2 separate regions of the Homo sapiens genome follow, and region 1 is linked to region 2. Evidence: fine-mapped expression QTL. A gene starts in region 2. The other region holds a variant in brackets. All regions are shown on one strand. Distances are from middle to middle.

What was found. PIP is the estimated chance that this variant, and not a neighbour inherited with it, causes the effect.
Region 1: its variant is fine-mapped to the expression of ATXN7L3-AS1 in whole blood (INTERVAL, PIP 0.97).

The regions. Positions count from the first base shown.
Region 1 is chr17:44,253,887-44,261,886 of GRCh38, forward strand. It overlaps SLC4A1 (solute carrier family 4 member 1 (Diego blood group)), which reads right to left. Exons shown (of 20, transcript NM_000342.4): 4 at 7,689-7,750; 5 at 6,749-6,929; 6 at 6,518-6,653; 7 at 5,923-6,046; 8 at 5,611-5,695; 9 at 5,277-5,458; 10 at 4,527-4,737; 11 at 4,100-4,294; 12 at 3,773-3,921; 13 at 3,464-3,658; 14 at 1,787-1,960; 15 at 1,321-1,410; 16 at 610-776. Among named protein-coding and RNA genes, the nearest start is that of SLC4A1, 10 kb to the right of the region's middle. RefSeq lists an enhancer at 3,188-4,144. The variant G/A (reference allele first, on the strand shown) is at 4,431.
Region 2 is chr17:44,195,413-44,203,923 of GRCh38, forward strand. It overlaps ATXN7L3-AS1 (ATXN7L3 antisense RNA 1), which reads left to right and starts at 3,428. Exons shown (of 2, transcript NR_184071.1): 1 at 3,428-3,518. It overlaps ATXN7L3 (ataxin 7 like 3), which reads right to left and starts at 4,472. Exons shown (of 13, transcript NM_001382309.1): 1 at 4,084-4,472; 2 at 2,608-2,718; 3 at 2,186-2,318; 4 at 1,816-1,987; 5 at 1,517-1,614; 6 at 984-1,006; 7 at 622-667; 8 at 388-416; 9 at 7-75. The coding sequence starts at 2,658. RefSeq lists enhancers at 1,443-2,366, 2,367-3,289, 2,849-3,143, 3,494-4,049, 4,775-5,313 and 1 more and silencers at 3,611-4,220, 4,321-5,120.

The sequences.
Region 1 (8,000 bases), 58 kb after region 2:
GTCTCAAACTACTGACCTCGTGATCCCCCCGTCTTGGCTTCCCAAAGTGCTAGGATTACAGATGTGAGCCACCTCACCTGGCGCTTTTTTTTTTTTTTTTTTTTTGAGATGGAGTTTCACTCTCGTTGCCCAAGTTGGAGTGCAATGGCGAGATCTCGGCTCACTGCAACCTCCGCCTCCCGGGTTCAAGCGATTCTCCTGCCTCAGCCTCCCAAGTAGCTGAGATTACAGGCTCGTGCCACCATGCCCGCCTAATTTTTTGTATTTTTAGTAGAAACAGGGCTTCACCATGTTAGCCAAGCTGGTCTCGAACTCCTGACCTCAGGTGATCTGCCCGCCTCGGCCTCTCAAACTGTTGGGATTACGGGCGTGAGCCACCGCGCCCGGCCACGTTTTTTTTTTCTTAAAAAGAGCTCTCCAAATTATACAACTTCTGGTCCCACAAAACCTGGAACTGCCCCTGGCTTTTCACTATTCCTGCTAGTCGGGAGGGCCACACACCCGCAGGGACTAGCTTGCAGTCCTGGGTCTCTTGCCTGCCTGGGAGAATGCCAGGGAAAGGTCCCTGCCTCCCACCCTCCCAGGCCCAGCCCCCACCCTGTCTCTCACGTGGTGATCTGAGACTCCAGGAATATGAGGATGAAGACCAGCAGAGCAGGCAGGGCGGAGGCAAACATCATCCAGATGGGAAACTCGGAACGCAAGCCCAGTGGGTGGATGACCCAGCCCCGGGCTGAGGAGTTGGACACCTTGAAGCCATCAGGCACCGAGAGTTTCTGTGGGAGGGGGTAGCAGGTAAGAATGCCAAGGGCAGGAGGATGGGGAAGGGTGGGAGCAGGAGGAGCCAGGGTCCTAGGGGTCGGGCAGTTAGGTTGGAGGCACTTGGGAACTTACTTATATTGAGCACTTGCTCTGTACCTAATCATTACACTAATCCCTTTACATCCATCTGCTCGTTCCCCACTTTAAAGATGAGGAAAGAGAATCAGAGAGGTTATGTAGCTTGCCCCACATCACACAGCTATTTGATGGCAGAGCTGGGATTCATGCCTAGATCTGCCTGGCTCCAAAGAATACTTCTTCCTACTGCTCTGGGTTAAGGAATGAAGGTGGCAACCTGGCCCAGCACCTTGCTTTGGCCACAGGGGTCCTCTGGGGCTGTGAGAAGCACATGGGACTCCCAGAGGAGGCAGGGATGGGGTAGAGGTAGTCCCAGCTGGCTTCAGGTTGGGGAAAGCTATTCTAGGGAAGGGGCATGCTGGGGGGTGGAAATGAGGACCTGGGGGGTATCATGGTCTGAGGGCTGGGAGGAGGGGTCACCTGGGTGTAGGTATCCTGAATGAAGAAATCCACCAGGACCATGATCAGGATGGAGATGGGGACCCCGAAGTCCCCGATGACCCGACGCAGCTGGGGGCAGGTGAAAGGACCAGTGGTCAGTGCCCAGTCACTCCCCACCTCCTGCCTTCCTCCTGCCCTATATTCACCCACGGGGCCCTGCTCTTCCAGGGGATCCATCAGCATCTAATGCCCTGTCCTGCACCTCAGCTATGTCTGCCTCCTTTCTTCTTCCCCCAGCAGTTCTCAGGCTGGGCATGCCATGAAAGTGGGAGGGGCTTGCCCATAGAGTGAAACCCTAGGTAAGGATAGGGCCAGGGGAGGTTGGAATTGGGAATGGGAATCTGAAAAAGAAGGGAAGCTAAGGGCACTGAGGAATTTGGAGCGGGGGGGCTTTGGGCTGGGATAGGGCAGTGTTGGCAAGGACAGGCGAGGAGGGTATGCTGACCTTGCCAGGGAAATAGGAGCTGTTCTTGAACTTGCGCAGCATCATGGCAAAGAAGAAGGTACCGGCCATGAGCACAAGGGAGAGGAGGGCTGTGTTGGGCAGGGGGCCCTGAGGTTTGGGCACCATCAACACGTTGTAGTTATAAGTCTTCTGTAGTGGGTGGTCCTGGAAGATCTGCAGCAGAAAACCAAGGCATTCTGTTCTCTCCCAGCTTTGGCTTGGGCTGGAAAATACCACCAGCTAACTCTACCCAGCACTACTATCCATTCATCCAGTCATCTATTAATTCATCATCCATCCATTTATCCACCCATCCATCATTCATCTATCCATTATCCATTGATCATCCATTGATTATTCATCCATCCATTCATTATCCATCTACCCATCCATCCACCTACCTATCATCTATCAACCCATTTATCCATCCATTCATCCGTCCATCATCCACCCACTCATTCATCAATCATCCATCCATCCAACCATCCATCCATCCATCCATCCGTCCATCCATTATCCATCTATTCATCCATCCATCCATCTATCTTCTTCCTCAATTGACATGGAAACAGAGGATAAATGGGATTCTACAGCTTGGTTTTCAGGAATGAAGACAGCCTAGGTTTAGGCAGGGAGGGCCATGGAAGGCAATGGGTGTGTGTGCGAGCACACATGTACACCCAGGACCTGGGAGACATGAGAAGGCTGGAGGTCAGGAAACAAGGGTCAGGGAAGTTTCTAACAAGGGGTTAAAAGACCTGGACACAGAAAGACCCTCCATCCAACAGAATCAGGGGACAACACATAGGGCTCACCCTTCTCCCATATAAAATGCAGGTACAAAGGCAAGCAGAGCTTAAGATGATGGGAGCCAAGCCAAGGTGGCTGGGCACTCCATCCACAAGCCCTGCAGCTCTTGAGGACAAGCACAGGGGAGGGAGTGGGGGACTTCAGAGGCTCCAGAGTCCCCCCAGCTCTCACTGTGCATGTACTTTCACATGCTCAGTGTCATGCCCATACCTACCCATTGCTCACGTCATGTGTGGTCATGAACTGGACATGTGCACACAGAGGCACCCTCTCATGCCTCAGCAAGAGTGCTGGCCACAGGCAGCAGGTGCCAACACATATGTGGTCACAGTCAACACAGCTGCACAGTCCTGTGTGCAGATGTGTGACTACACAGACATAGACACATATGTTGACACAGACACATATGTTGTCACAGTCATGTGCACAGTCACATGGTTATGTACACAGGTGAAAGCAAAGACACACAAATGCTGCACAGACACATGTGCGAGGACACAATGGCTCAGTCTTTTTTTTTTTTTTTTGAGACGGATTCTTGCTCTGTTGCCCAGGCTGGAGTGTAGTGGCACAATCTCGGCTCACTGCAACCTCCACCTCCCGGGTTCAAGCAGTTCTCCTGCCTCAGCCTCCTGAGTAGCTGGGATTACAGATGCATGCCACCACATCTGGCTGATTTTTGTATTTTTAATAGAGATGGAGTTTCACAATGTTGGTCAGGCTGGTCTTGAACTCCTGATCTCGGGTGATCCACCTGCCTCGGCCTCCCAAAGTTCTGAGATTACAGGCCTGAGCCCTCGCACCCGGCCACTGTCTCAGTCTTATACACAACCTCCCGTGTGCATTAACATCCCCATAGGCCCCCACCTTGATCAGCTTGGAGAAAGTCTCATAGATGAAGATGAGGGAAATGAGGAAGGAGAAGATCTCCTGGGTATAGCGGGAGATGAAGCGGACCAGGAAGCTACCCTCGAAGGCCACCACCAACACCACCAGCAGGATGAGCCAGAAGCCGATCCACACGCGGCCCACGATGTACTCTAGACCGTTGGTCTCGCAGAACTGCAGGGTGGTCAGAAGAAGCCGGTCAGTCAAAGGGTCTTGGGGCAAGGCACCATGCATCAGGCAGGTGGTGCGGGGGACATGACAGGGTCAGTGGGGCAAGGACAGAACTACCGAGAAGAAGGCTTCCTCAAACACCAGCAGGGGTCCTGAGAAGCCGACCACAAGCAGGGGCTGAGCCCCCAGCAGGGCGAAGAGAATGCCCTGCACTGCAGTGGAGATCAGCAGCTCCGACACTCCCATCTGGTTCCGGGTCTTTTCTCCTGTGGGTAGAGGTCACAGTGGGATCAAGGTCAGGAGATCATTTCCAGGAGCCCATAGAGCAAGTCATGGTCAGGCTGATGCAGGGGTCTGGAGGGTCAGACAGAGTCAGAAGTTGGGGCTGAGACAGAGGCCAGAGGGTCAGAGGCAAGAGTTAGGGAGACAGGTATTGGCACTGACCCAGGAGGCCGCCGAAGGTGATGGCGGGTGACAGTGCAGCAAAGTAGATGAAGATGACGGCAGCCAGGACCTGGGGGCTGAATGCATCTGTGATGTCACTCAGGTAATAGGGGTAGCGGCGCCGGATATCACGCACCAGGCCCCCGAAGAGCTGGCCTGTCTGCTGCAGAGGGTCATCTGGGCCCCCATTTAAGTCTGTGGTGGAGGATAAGAGCATGGTCAGAGGGAGTAGCTGGAGGAGGTGAGGGGAAAGGGGACTGGAGGGTGTAGGGGAGATTGTCTGATGGGAATGGGGCGGCGAAGAAGTCTGGAAGATGTGGGCAAAGGGAGC[G/A]ATGAGAGGGGAACATGTGATGGGAGACAGAGGCTACGCTGAGGTGTCTGGGGGTCGGTGGGGGCTCAGAAAGCCTCAGCTGGGAAGGGCAGGTACCTAGGCCCTTGTAGAAGCTGGAGTCTGGCTTGGCAGGGCTGGACTGATAGCGCCTTCGAAGTAGCTCCCTCTGCACAGGCACCAGACTGAGCAGTGCCTGCTCGGAGGGGGCATCGGTGGGAGGCAGCACTAGGCTGCAGTCCAGGAAGCCCTCTAGGGAGTGCAGCAGCTCCCCTCGGCTCTGAGCCATGTAGGCATCTATGCGGAACACCTAGGGGCAGGAGACAGGGTCAGAGCTGCCCGGACCTGCGGAGGGAAAGGACCCAGGAGTCCACAGCCAGGGCCTCCAGGAACCAGAACCCCCTCAGGCAGCAGCTCCCATTGCCAGGAACTGCTTTTCCTGCCCGCTCCCACCCCTACTCTCCCCACTAAGAAAGAGCTCTGGGGAGACAGACGGGGGCCCTGGGTGGGGAAAGGAGAAGGAACTAAAGCTAACCTGGTGGGTTAAGCAGACTAGATGAAACTAGAGCTGACTAGGCCCGACCAAGCCTGACCTGACCAGGTGGAACCAGGTCATAGTGAGCTGGACTAGACTAAGCCAGGCCAAAGCCAACCAGACGAGACCAGGCCAGAGCAGGGCCAGACTGCACGCCCCGACTGCCCCCGCCAGGTAGGATAGCAGCAGCTGGATTAGGCTGAATGGGTCAAACCAGTGAACCTAAAGTAACCCAGGCCAGGTTGGAGAGCAGGCCTCAGCCACCATGCAGGTCCCAAGCTTCCCCAGCCCAGCCCTCTCCGGCCCTTCCTTACCCTCTCTGACATGAGGGTGGCAGCAGCCCGGCCAAGCTGGGTGTAATCGATGTGGGGGGCCTCAGGTCCCAGCAACACAAAGAGGAAGCGTATAGGCACCGGCAGCTCCACCGCCTCCAGCTCCGCTGCCTCCTGCAGCCTCACGAAGCCCAGCACCGGCTGCTCCAGGAAGTCGGCGCGGCCTGTTAGGGGATGAGAAGATCAGGCCAGGCCGAGGAGCCCAGGGTGGGTGTGCTGAAGAGATGGGGCTGCGGGGGTCCAGGCTGAGGGAAAGACAGGCTGAGCCAAGACACGAGGGGTGTGGAGGGCTGAGGGTAGAGATGCCTGTTCTTACCCACTAGCACCAACGTGGCCTCTGAATCCGGGGGAATCTTTTCCAGAATTCCAGATGGTGAGTGCCCTTCTGTGCCCCCATCTCCCTGTGGGAAGGAGGGTGGTGACGGGAGTCCTCGGGCCAGTCTGACCTGGGAGACCTGAGCATCCTCCCCTTCCCATTCTCGCTTCCCAACTCTCCTGGCACCCCCCGGGCACAGGAGTGCTTCTGGTCCCCTGCTTGTGGTCGGTTTTTCAGGACCCCTGCTGGCGTTTGAGAAAGCTCTCTCCTTGCCCCACCCTGACCCTGACCCTGACCCTGTAACTGACTCACCTGCTCACAGAAGAGCTGTGTCTCCAGTGAGGAGTGTTGGGGGAGCAGAGGCTGTGAAGGATCCCCAGAGCGTGTCAGGACTGCAGGCTTCACACCCCCCAGGGCCTCCAGCTCTCCAGCGTGGCTGCAGGACGTACAGGGGACATGGGCTGAGTAAGCTGTTCAGGCTGAGCTATCAGTGGTGGGAGGGATCAAGGGCGAACATCAAGGGACTGGGGTAGACATCAAGGGTAGACATCTGGGACTTCCCAGACCAGACCAGAGAGACCCTGGGATGGAAGGAGAATCAGAGCCTCCTCTCCAAGGACGTTGTAGATGTAAGTGGGTGGCCTCTGGAATGACGAGGCGGGATCAAGAGTGGCTACAGAAAAGGGCCTTGCAGGTCTGCCCTCCTGGGGACCAACAGCCCCCAACTCTGAGCATAGGACATGGCCACCCCTTTCAAGGTGTCAGAGATGGGAGCCATAGTGGAGGAAAGTGGGCCCCTGCCTGGTGAGGGTAGGGCCACCTGGATCCCGGGGGAGAACTTGGGGCAAGTGGGCTGGGGAAGTGGGCCCACTGGATATGGAATCCAGGCCCTGGCAGGCAGGGGCACCTGTGTTTAAGCAGCAGGGCCCGGAGCAGCTCCTCTCGGTCCTGAGGCCGGATCTGGTCTTCAAAGATAAACCTGTCTAGCAGTTGGTTGGCCACTCCAGCCAGGGAGGTCTCTTGCAGGTCTAGGAGGACAGTACCTGCAGGCAGTGGAGGAGTGAGCTGGTAGGCTGGGCCACAGCACCCCACAACAATCCTCATCTGCAGGGGGTCCAGAAGGGCCCAGGAGGCTCACCCTTGGTGAAGACTCTACGCAGCTCTAGGAGGCTCCAGAAGGTGAGGTGAGAGAGGTGCGGGCGGCCCCAGGCCCCATTCTCCCCCAGGTTCTCCTCCAGTTGCACCCAGCGCGCCGCCTCCATCCATCTCAGCTCCTGGTTCTTTTCGTCCATCACCAGCTCCTGCAGCTCCACATAGACCTGTGGCCCCATGCGCCTGAGTTAGTTCATCAGGCATAGTCCAGGGCATAGTGGGTGCTCAGCCACTCTCGAGAGAGGCTTGTGCTTGTGAGGCTTGGATCCCTGTGCTCAAGGGTCCGTAGATACGGCTCACACCACTCCCTTATCTCCCAACTTCCTGGCCAGGCCTTTACCCCATTGCAGAAGGCATTTGGAGAACCCTGACCCAAAGGGATGCTGGAGAGGCCACTGGGGAGGGAAAGGAGTGGGAAGCAGAGGCCTGGCGGGCCGAAGCTAAAGGGGACTTTGGAGTCATTGGGTCAGTCTCCAGCCTCTAAGATTGTTCGTGGATGTGCTTTAGCATGTCCCTGAGGCCAGGTGGTTGCTCCAAGGGCCATAGCTGAGGGCCACCCCAAATTTCTAACCACTTAGACAGTTCAGTGCCCAGTGGGGACCTGAGGGGCCTGGGCAGAGGAGAACAAGTCTTTAATTCTGTGCTTCCCCAGTGACGCCCGACAGCCCAGCCAGGGCCTGAGGGCCTGGGGACTCAGCCCTTGTCAATCAGGTTATCTCTGCCCAGGGTGCTCCTGGAAAGGGGCCCAGGCCTCCCCATCAGTGGGGCGTCCCTCCCACCTGTTTCCTGGGATCCTCACTCCTCTATCTGCTGCAGGGTCTCCCCCAGCCTGAAGCTGCCTCTATCCCCTTGCTCCTCTCTTCCCTGATCAAATGGTGGGTCCCAAAGGCAGCATGGGAAAGAACGGAGGAGGCTGGGGTCCTCACCTTGTGGGTACCCGGGTGTGATGTGGTGTGGTAGTCTGTGGCTGTTGCCTCGGTGTCGTGAGCTGAAAACCAGAGGTCGGTTAGTATTGACCTGACCGTCCCCCACCTGAGGCTCTTCACCATCCACTGTGAGCCTCAGAGACCCAGGCATGGGCAGATGCCCCTCCTTCCCAGTGCCCTGGGCTGGGTCTCTGGTGCCGCATCCCACACTGGCCACTCAGCAGAATGAGGCTCCCCACACTTGTGTGCTGGGCCTAGCCTTGGGCTCCCTATCTGAGCCTTGTCGAGGACACCCGGGATTCAGCCAGGGAG
Region 2 (8,511 bases):
CCTCACCGTGGTTAGCAGGCTGCGAAGCTCCTCCGGCCCCAGGGTCTCATAGCTGATCCCAGTTGAATTGTTATACTGCAGGACAACCAGAGGTACAGGTTAGAGATGGGGCAGAGAAAAGAGAAGGACAGGGGTGGAAGTGAGAATCAGTCCCTCTGGTCCCTTTCTAAGTGAGGCTTTAGAACGACCCTGCCGTTTTCCAAGTGATTTCTCTCATCCCATCTGCCAATGGATAAGGGGTGGGACTCAGAAAGAACATAAATATGTAAGATCCAAATAGCTCATCAGTGCCTCTGGCTGTCAGCATTCTGATCCCTACTTGTCCAAATCCCCACCACCTCACAACCAGGACAATGAGAGCAAGCATGAGGGGCGGCCCATACTCACCTTAAAAGGATCCGAATTGCTAAGTTCCCCTGAAGAAGAAAAAAGAAGGGGAAGGGTGTTTGATGCAGAGGTACAGACAGAGAACCCTGAAAATAACCAGAGAGGAAGTGGGGGTGACAGAAGGATCACAGGCCCTCCCTCAATTCCCCTATCCCCGGGCCCCACCTCCACCCCCCGGCAATGAGTCCCAGAAGACACAGCTAGAAGCATTCCCATTGCTCCGGCTCCACTTACCATTTTTGTGTTTTAATGACTTGGATCTTCGAGGGGAATTGGGGTTCTGGAATGGGAGATACCATAGCTTTGGGGAAAGGGTAACGAAAAGGGGGAGCCGAGAACCCAGGGAAGGAAAAAAGATTTGACAAAGCAGCATCCTCAAATTCCTACTCTTCCTCCCCAGTAGGAGGCCTGTCTACCCATGTGCCCTCCCCCACCCCCCTTCCCCACCCACACTCCCCCGCCCCGGACCCACCAAAGACACCCTCAAGCCCCCAATGACCTCAGCCTTGAGTCATGACACTCGAGGACTCCCTGCCCAAAGGGGAGGGTATCTGTCCTTTACCCATTATTTCCCCAATGCCTGGCCCGGCTCTCACCTTGTCTGACTTTCTCTTCTTGGCTGTGGGAAACAAAAGCATAAAGAGCAGGGTTTCCGTTAAGTTCTCAATCTAAAAGCATCTCAAGAAAACCATACAACAGGCTGGGCACGGTGGCTCATGCCTGTAATCCCAGCACTTTGGGAGGCCCAGGCGGGCAGATCACGAGGTCAGAAGATCGAGACCATCCTGGCCAATATGGTGAAACCCCATCTCTACTAAAAATACAAAAATTAGCTGGGCATGGTAGCACGCGACTGTAATCCCAGCTACTCAGGAGGCTGACACAGGAGAATCGCTTGAACCCGGGAGACGGAGGTTGCAGTGAGCCGAGATCTCACCACTGCACCCCAGCCTGGGCCACAGAGCGAGAATCCATCTCAAAAAAAAAAAAAAAAAAAAAAGGAAAAGGAAATCGCGTAACTACACTCTCTCTTCATCATTCAAGGCAACAATTTGTGACCACTGTATACCCAATTCCTGCTTCCCACCTCATCCCAATGCCCCCCGGGTTTCCCCAGATCCCCAAGCACCTTTCTTCTCCGAGCCATAGGACCAGTCGTTGTCATTGATGTCATCATTATCTTCTTGGTCACTCTCAGACTTATTCATATTGTTGCTATTGGCAATCCTGCCAAGGGGAGGGAAGAGAAAGGGGCCAAGGGGAAGGAAGAGAAAGGGGTCAAGGTGGTCACCCCGCTCTGCCCCCAACTTCAGAAGCAGGTGGAGCATCTGGGGCCAAGTAAAACCCACCCTCTGTACCTTCCCAATGCCCCCGGGGGACTACACCATGGCACAGGCTGCAGAGAACGGGCAGCTCTGGTTCCCTCACCGGCGGTTGGCGATTCGGCTGCTGTTCCGACCCATTCCCAGGCACTTCTCCAGATGGGGAGCAAAGCGGGAGGCGGCAATGCTGCGACTGCAATTGGGGCAAACACACTCCTTGCTCTTCCACTGGTTGAAAACCTGTCCAAAGATGTCCAAGCCCGGCTGGTCCACGATCTCTGGGGACAGGAGAGGCTGGCGATCAGGGTGGGCAGGACCCTCTCCTCTTGTTCCCACCTGGGGTCCCACGGCCTCTTCAATCCCTCCCCCGGCTCACAGGAGCTCCAGGTGCTACATCTAGCACAGTTTCCAGAGAAGGAAACTCCAGGCAGTCCCAGGGAAGGGCTGGACTGCTGCTCCTTCACCCTGAAGCTCACCAAAATCCTTCATGCTATCAGGGTCCGTGTCGTCCAAGAAGAAGTAGCCACACTTGACAGCCCGGTGTACCTCAAAGCAGAATCCCAAACAAGAATCCTCGACCAGGTCCGCGTATATCTCCTGAGCGATGGCCTGGGCCCCAGGGGAGAACATCTACGGTCACAAGAGTCACAGCCCCCTGGACTCTCACCAACCAAATCTGCTGCCAACTGGCCCCAGCCAAAAATCATGCTTTCTTTGCCATTTTCCCCATCTTGACTTCGTGTTCTTTCTTCTTCCTGGATCCTTGGCTTTTTCAGCTGGCTATTCCCTTTAAGGAACAAGGCTGACTACCCAAATTCCTCTTTGGTGTGGATGCCAGATACAGCGACGTAGAGACATCAAGAGAAAGAACTGGAGGCACACGTGGGGGAGCCCTCACCTCTAGTTTGCTGTTATCCAGGCCAGACAAAGACATTTCCTCCATTTTCATTTGTAAACTCTTGTGGAGACGGCGCTCTGACTGCTCATAGCACAGCGGGCGGCAACACGGCTGCACACACGGGGGTGGGGGTGTTGTTGTGAGTCCAAGGCACCTCTGAATGCGGCCACCTTCCCTCCCCACCTCGCTGCCCAAAGCTCAGTCCTGGCATCAGGGTCTCTCCCTCCCCAAGGCCCAGGCTCCCTAAGTCTGGATGGTCCTTCAAGGCCTGAAACCTAAAGGGGGCCTAGTCTTTCCCAGGCCTGAGCTCAGGCCCTGGACTCCACTGCCAATCAGAGTCTGGGTCTATAGGAGGCAGCAGCTCACCCTAGGTCCCCAAAACTCAAACCCCTCTTTGATACCCATGGTGCAATGCAGCAGGGGGAGGAGAAGGAACTCCAAGGCCTCAAAGCAAACCCACAGGGTGTGGCAAAGAACTGCACAGACTCCTAAATACACCCCCCGCCTTCCCTAAAGACTCTCCTCAGAGTCACCTCTGCTTTCAGCCAGGATGTCCACTTGGGGGGGTACTGCTACCAGAAGTAGAAATGGCCCTAGGACCCTACAACCTTCACCCCACTCTGTCTTCCCTTGAAATCAGCCTGCCACTCCACGAGGGGAGCAGAGCCCACAGGAGCCTAGAGCTAAGGGACATTTCTAGCCACCATGAGCAGGAACGGCGGGGGGTGGGGGGGAAGAGCCTGGTAGGGTGGCACGCCAGGAGCGGGCACTCCCCTTACCTGTTCTTCCTTTAAATAACCACCCGCCCTCCCTCAGGACCAGCCCGGAAGTCTCTCCAAGAGCCCCAAAGTCCAGGAACCCCCACCCAAGGATTCAGACACAGAACCCACAACCCAGGGCCCCTCGGAACGGTGGGTACGAGTTTCAGGAGCTGCCGGCCTAGAGTGGGGTGGGGACTGACGAATGAGCCGGGGGCACTGGGAAGGGTAGGAGGCCGGGCCTCGGCTCTTCCCCCGTCCCTGCGGCACTGCTGCTGCATCATACCGACTGGGGGGAGGACAGCCGAGCCGCCGGGGCCGGCGCCGGGCCGGGACAGACCGACCCCCAGAGAGTGGGACGCGTCCCAGCCCCTCTCCTTCCCCGCCCGCCAGCAGCCCCGGCCGGCCGGGGAGAGGAGTCCGGGAGGGTGTCTCTATTGTCCCGGGGGCTGGGGCCTGGCTCCCTAACAAAGGCCCCGCGCCCCCTCCCCGGCCGGCCCTGCCCCGCCCAAGGGGGACCCAGACGGGGGAGAGCCAGGGGCCCCGGCCCGGCCGGGAAGCTGGGGGAAGCCGGGCGTTTCCGCGTCGGCCCGGGGGGAGGGGAAGGGGCGCTGACCCAGACCTGGGGGGAGGGGGCCCAAGCCCCGCCTTGGGCCCCGCCCCCCGCCCCCCACAGGCCCCTCCCCCGTCCCCGTCCCCGTCTCCGTCCCGTACTCACCCCGCCCGGGGGGCCGCGCCGGGGCCCGGCAGCCTCTCAGGGCCGCGTCCTCCGGCGGCGGCGACGGCGGCGGCTGCTCCGGAGCCCCATGTCCGTCGGTCCGTCCTCGCCTCTCCCCGGGGCCCAGGGCCCGGGGCCGGGGGGTCGGGCCGCCCCCCCGCCTGGCCGCCTCACCGGGCGGCCATGGCCCCTTCCCCTCCCTTCTTGTCCCGTCGCCGCCTCCTCCTCCTCACCTCACCCCGCCCGCGCGCAGTCCGCGCGCCGTCCGCGCGCCCCTCCCCCCGCCCCCCACTCCAGCCCGCCTCTCCCGGGCGGGGGGTGCGGCGCGAGCCCGGAGCGCGCGCGCGTGTGCCGCGACCGGAGGATGGATGGATGGAGCGAGCGTGAACGCGAGCGTGCGCGCGCGCGCCCCTCTCCCCCTCCCTCTGCGCGGGCGCGAGGCCAAGCGCGAGCGCGCTCCAACCTCCTCCTCTTCCTCCTCCCGCCCCTCCCCAACACCCCGCCCTCCCCCTCCCTTCCTCTTCCTTCTTTCGCTTTCGCGCGCCCAGCGACTGCTCGCGCCTGCTAGAAGGGCCCGAGCGCGTGCATCTGCCCCGCGGCCGCAGCTCGGCAGCATTTGCTCCAGGGGGCGGGGACCGGGAGGGGAGGAGGGGCGCCACGCCGCCGTCCAAAGTACCGGCGGACGGGGACGGGGGCGGAGAGATGGGCGGGGCCTTCGCGGACCTCCCCGACCAATCGCAGGGAGGCCTCGGCCCGGGAGGACCAATAAGATGGGGGTGGGTGGGGCGGCGTTCAAGGTGAGGTGCGCGGTGCGCTGGGGGCGGAGACGTTTTGCCGTCCCGGCCGGCTCGGGGGCGGGGGCAGCGGGTGGCGTCGAAAGAGAGCGCCGGCTGCCAGCCGAGCCTGGGACGCCTTCCGGCCCAGGCTCCCCCGCCCTTCCCTCGGGGCTCCCCGCTCTCTCCCCCGCCACCCTCCGCTCCCCCCTTTACCCCGAGGCGTGCAGCCACTTCTGTGAAGAGGCCAGACTTGAAGTGGGGCGCAGTTAGGACCTCGGGGCGGAAAGCCTGTGGAGCCTAAGGGGCTCGCCCGCGCCTCAGTTCTCCCGGTTTCTGGGCGGGTCTCAGCCCACTCCAGGCTTGCGGACCAACAAGCGGCCGAGATGAGGGTCCGCTGCTGAGGTCGGAGGCCGAGCTGCGCCCTTCTGCGCGGAGCGCCCTCCCCGCCCCTCGTCCTAATTTAGATCCCACACCTGCTCGCCTTTCCTGCTTCCGGAACCCACGCTGGACCCCCACCCCTCCAGACAGCCTCCTTGTCACTGGCCAGATCCTTCCCCCGACCCAGTGCTGTTCCCCTGGGTGCAGCGTGTCCCTGTGCTCACGCTCTCAGTCCCTCTTTACCTTAGGAAGGGACAGGCCTTTTCCCAGCCGCGGTGGATGGCTGGATTGGCGCTTTCATCTCGGTTACTCTGTGTGTGGTGTCCTGGAACGGTTGTGTGACAGCCCTCTCCCCTCAAGAGATAAGATTAAAAAGGAGGATAGTCTGTAATCACATACTTGGAGCCATCTTTGGTTTTTAGTTTTCAGCAAATACTTATTTTTTTCTCACCGATTTCTCCCGAGAAACAGCAAACATTTATTGAGGCGATATTCCAGAGTAGTTCAGATCAGGCGTCTGATTTGAATTTAAATCGTTGGGCCTAGCAAATGAGTTTCCTGTGCCTCAGTTTCCTCTGTTGTCAGTGGGCATAATGATAGTCCTATCTCCTTGCGTTGCTGTAGTGATTAACAAGTCAGTGCATGTGAAACTCTTAGCTCTGTGTAAGTGCTTGGTAAATCTTAGCTGTTATTCTCACGGTGCTCCAGGTGCTGGGATAAAAGATGATATAAGACAGTTGTGCTTCTTCAAGAAGTTCACTGTCTTGTGGATAGATAGGTAGGATAATAATTGCAAAACAGTGTGAGGAAAACAACAGAGAGAAAACAGAGGTAGACAAAAGGAGACATCAAATGATGTAAGAGAGTTGGTCAAGAAAGGCTTCTTGGGCAGGGTGCGGTGGCCCAGGCCTGTAATCCCAGCACTTTGGGAGGCCAGGAGTTCGAGACCAGCCTGCAAAAATGCAAAAATTAGCTGGGCGTGGTGGCGGGCTCCTGTAATCCCAGGAGCTACTCGGGAGGCTTAGGCAATAGTAGTAATCCAGCTACTCGGGAGGCTTGGGCAGGAGAATCGCTTGAACCCGGGAGGCGGAGGTTGCAGTGAGCTGAGATTGCGCCACTGCACTCCAGCCTGGGCAACTGAGCGAGACTCCGTCTCAAAACAAAACAAAAAAGAAGAAAAAGAAAAACTTCTTATAGAGGGAGATGAACCAGGTGAAGGTAGGCCAAGAAGGCATTGGACATCCCCAACTGGAAGCTTCAGAAGCATGGATCAAGCTGGAACAGAGGAGTGGGTGGCAGAGCAGCAGGAGGTGAGCAGGCTGGATAATACAGGACAAAGCAAAGTAGGTGTTGAAAAGTTTGTGGGCTTTAGCCTGTAAGCTGTGAGGAGTCCTCAAGGGGAATCATTCACCAGACTTATATTTTTAGTGGATCATGCTGGAGTATGGTCTGGAGAATAATTTAGAAGCAGTAGGTTTTTTGTTTTGTTTTGTTTTGTTTTTTTAGACAGCATTTTGCTCTGTCACTCAGGTGCAATCTCAGCTCACGGCAACTTCTGCGTCCCGGGTTCAAGTGATTCTCATGCCTCAGCCTCCTGAATAGCTGGGATTACTGGCGCACGCCACCACGCTCGGCTAATTTTAGTTTTGTATTTTTAGTACAGACAGGGTTGCACCATGTTGGCCAGGCTGGTCTCGAACTTCTGACCTCAGGAGATCCGCCTGCCTCAGCCTCCCAAATGCTGGGATTACAGGCATAAACCACTGGGCCTGGCAAAAGCAGTAGGTTTTTGTTACTGATTGAGGTGTGTGGAGGAAAGGAGAGGGAGGTCTTGAAAACACCTTTACTAGGATGGGGAACTCAGGGGAGGACATGGGAGGACACAGGATGACTTCAGTCTGGGATATATTGAGGTTACTGTGGGATCAGCTGATGGAGACCCAAAAGGTGGTTGAACTCAGGTCTGGCACAGAGAAGTAAGCTAGGTCTTCAGGAACTTCAACAACATCGCCTCAACCTTTGTTTTCTCTTATCTCCCGCCTCCTTTTCAGGAATTCTTCACTCCAGTGATGCTGATCTGTTTCTTACCTAAATATGCCCAGTACATTCTGCCCTAAGGAATTTGCGCCATGGCCAGAAAATCCTCCTGGCTTCTCCCTGTTTACCTAAATCCTTCCTCATATCCCCACCCATGGCCATCCTCATACCAAACTTCTTTACAACTAGACTGTACTATTCATTCTGTGCTTGGCCTGGGCTGCTCTGTGGTGGTGACCTCTTTGGGCACGTGCCCAGTCTCCACAGTTAGCACCAGTTCATAAACACTAAGGCCTGAGCTGGTCCTGACTCTGGGTGAGGCCCTGGGGTTACAGCAACAAGCAAGAGAGACACACAAACCTTGTCCTAGCGCAGCTTACAGCCTAGCAAGGCCTGATGTGAAGGAAATAAGGCCTGAGTGTGAAGGCATTCAGGCTGCTGAAGAAACGTATAGTGTGGAGACCTTTTTTCTCAGGAGTTCAGGGAAGGAAGTGGTCTTTTAAGTGGAGACCAGAATTAACTAGGCAGAGAGAACACCATGTGTATAGGCCCTAGGAGAGAGCATGTTATGTTCGAGACATGAATGGTCAGTGTGGCTAGAGTCGGGGGAGGGCTAACGGGGGCAGCAGATCCCCAAGGGCCTTGTGGGCCAGACCTATTCACCCACTCAGCAAATCTTTCTTGATTGTCAAATGTATATCAGGCAGTTTCAGGTGCTGAGATTACTGTAATGAACAAGCAGATAAGGTGTCTTCTACTTGGGGAGATAGATAATAAACAAATACATAAACAAGAAGATGGAGGAGGCCTCTCTAGAGCAGGTGGTTGGGAAAGGCTTCTCTGTGAGAGGACATGTGAGTTGAGGCTTAAAGAATGAAAAAAAAAAATCAGGTATGTGTAGAGTTGGAGGAATAGCCATTCTAGGCAGAGAGAACAGGTGCCAAGACCCCGCAGGTAGGCATGTTTGAGGAACAGAAGAGATCACTTGGTTGGATCGTTGTAAGTGGTTAGGAAGAGCAGGGTGAGAGAAGATAAGAGAAGGAATGCGGGGGCCAAGCCTTGTAGGGCCATGGTAAGACATGGTAAATTTTCAGTACAGAAATAATCAGATTTATTTCTGAGATAATTTTGGCTGCCATGTGAAGAATGGGCTGTAGGGGGCGAGAGTGGAAGCAGGAAGACCAGCTTTAGGAGGTCTTTGCAGAAGTTGAGCAATGATGGTGGCCTGAAATAGGAT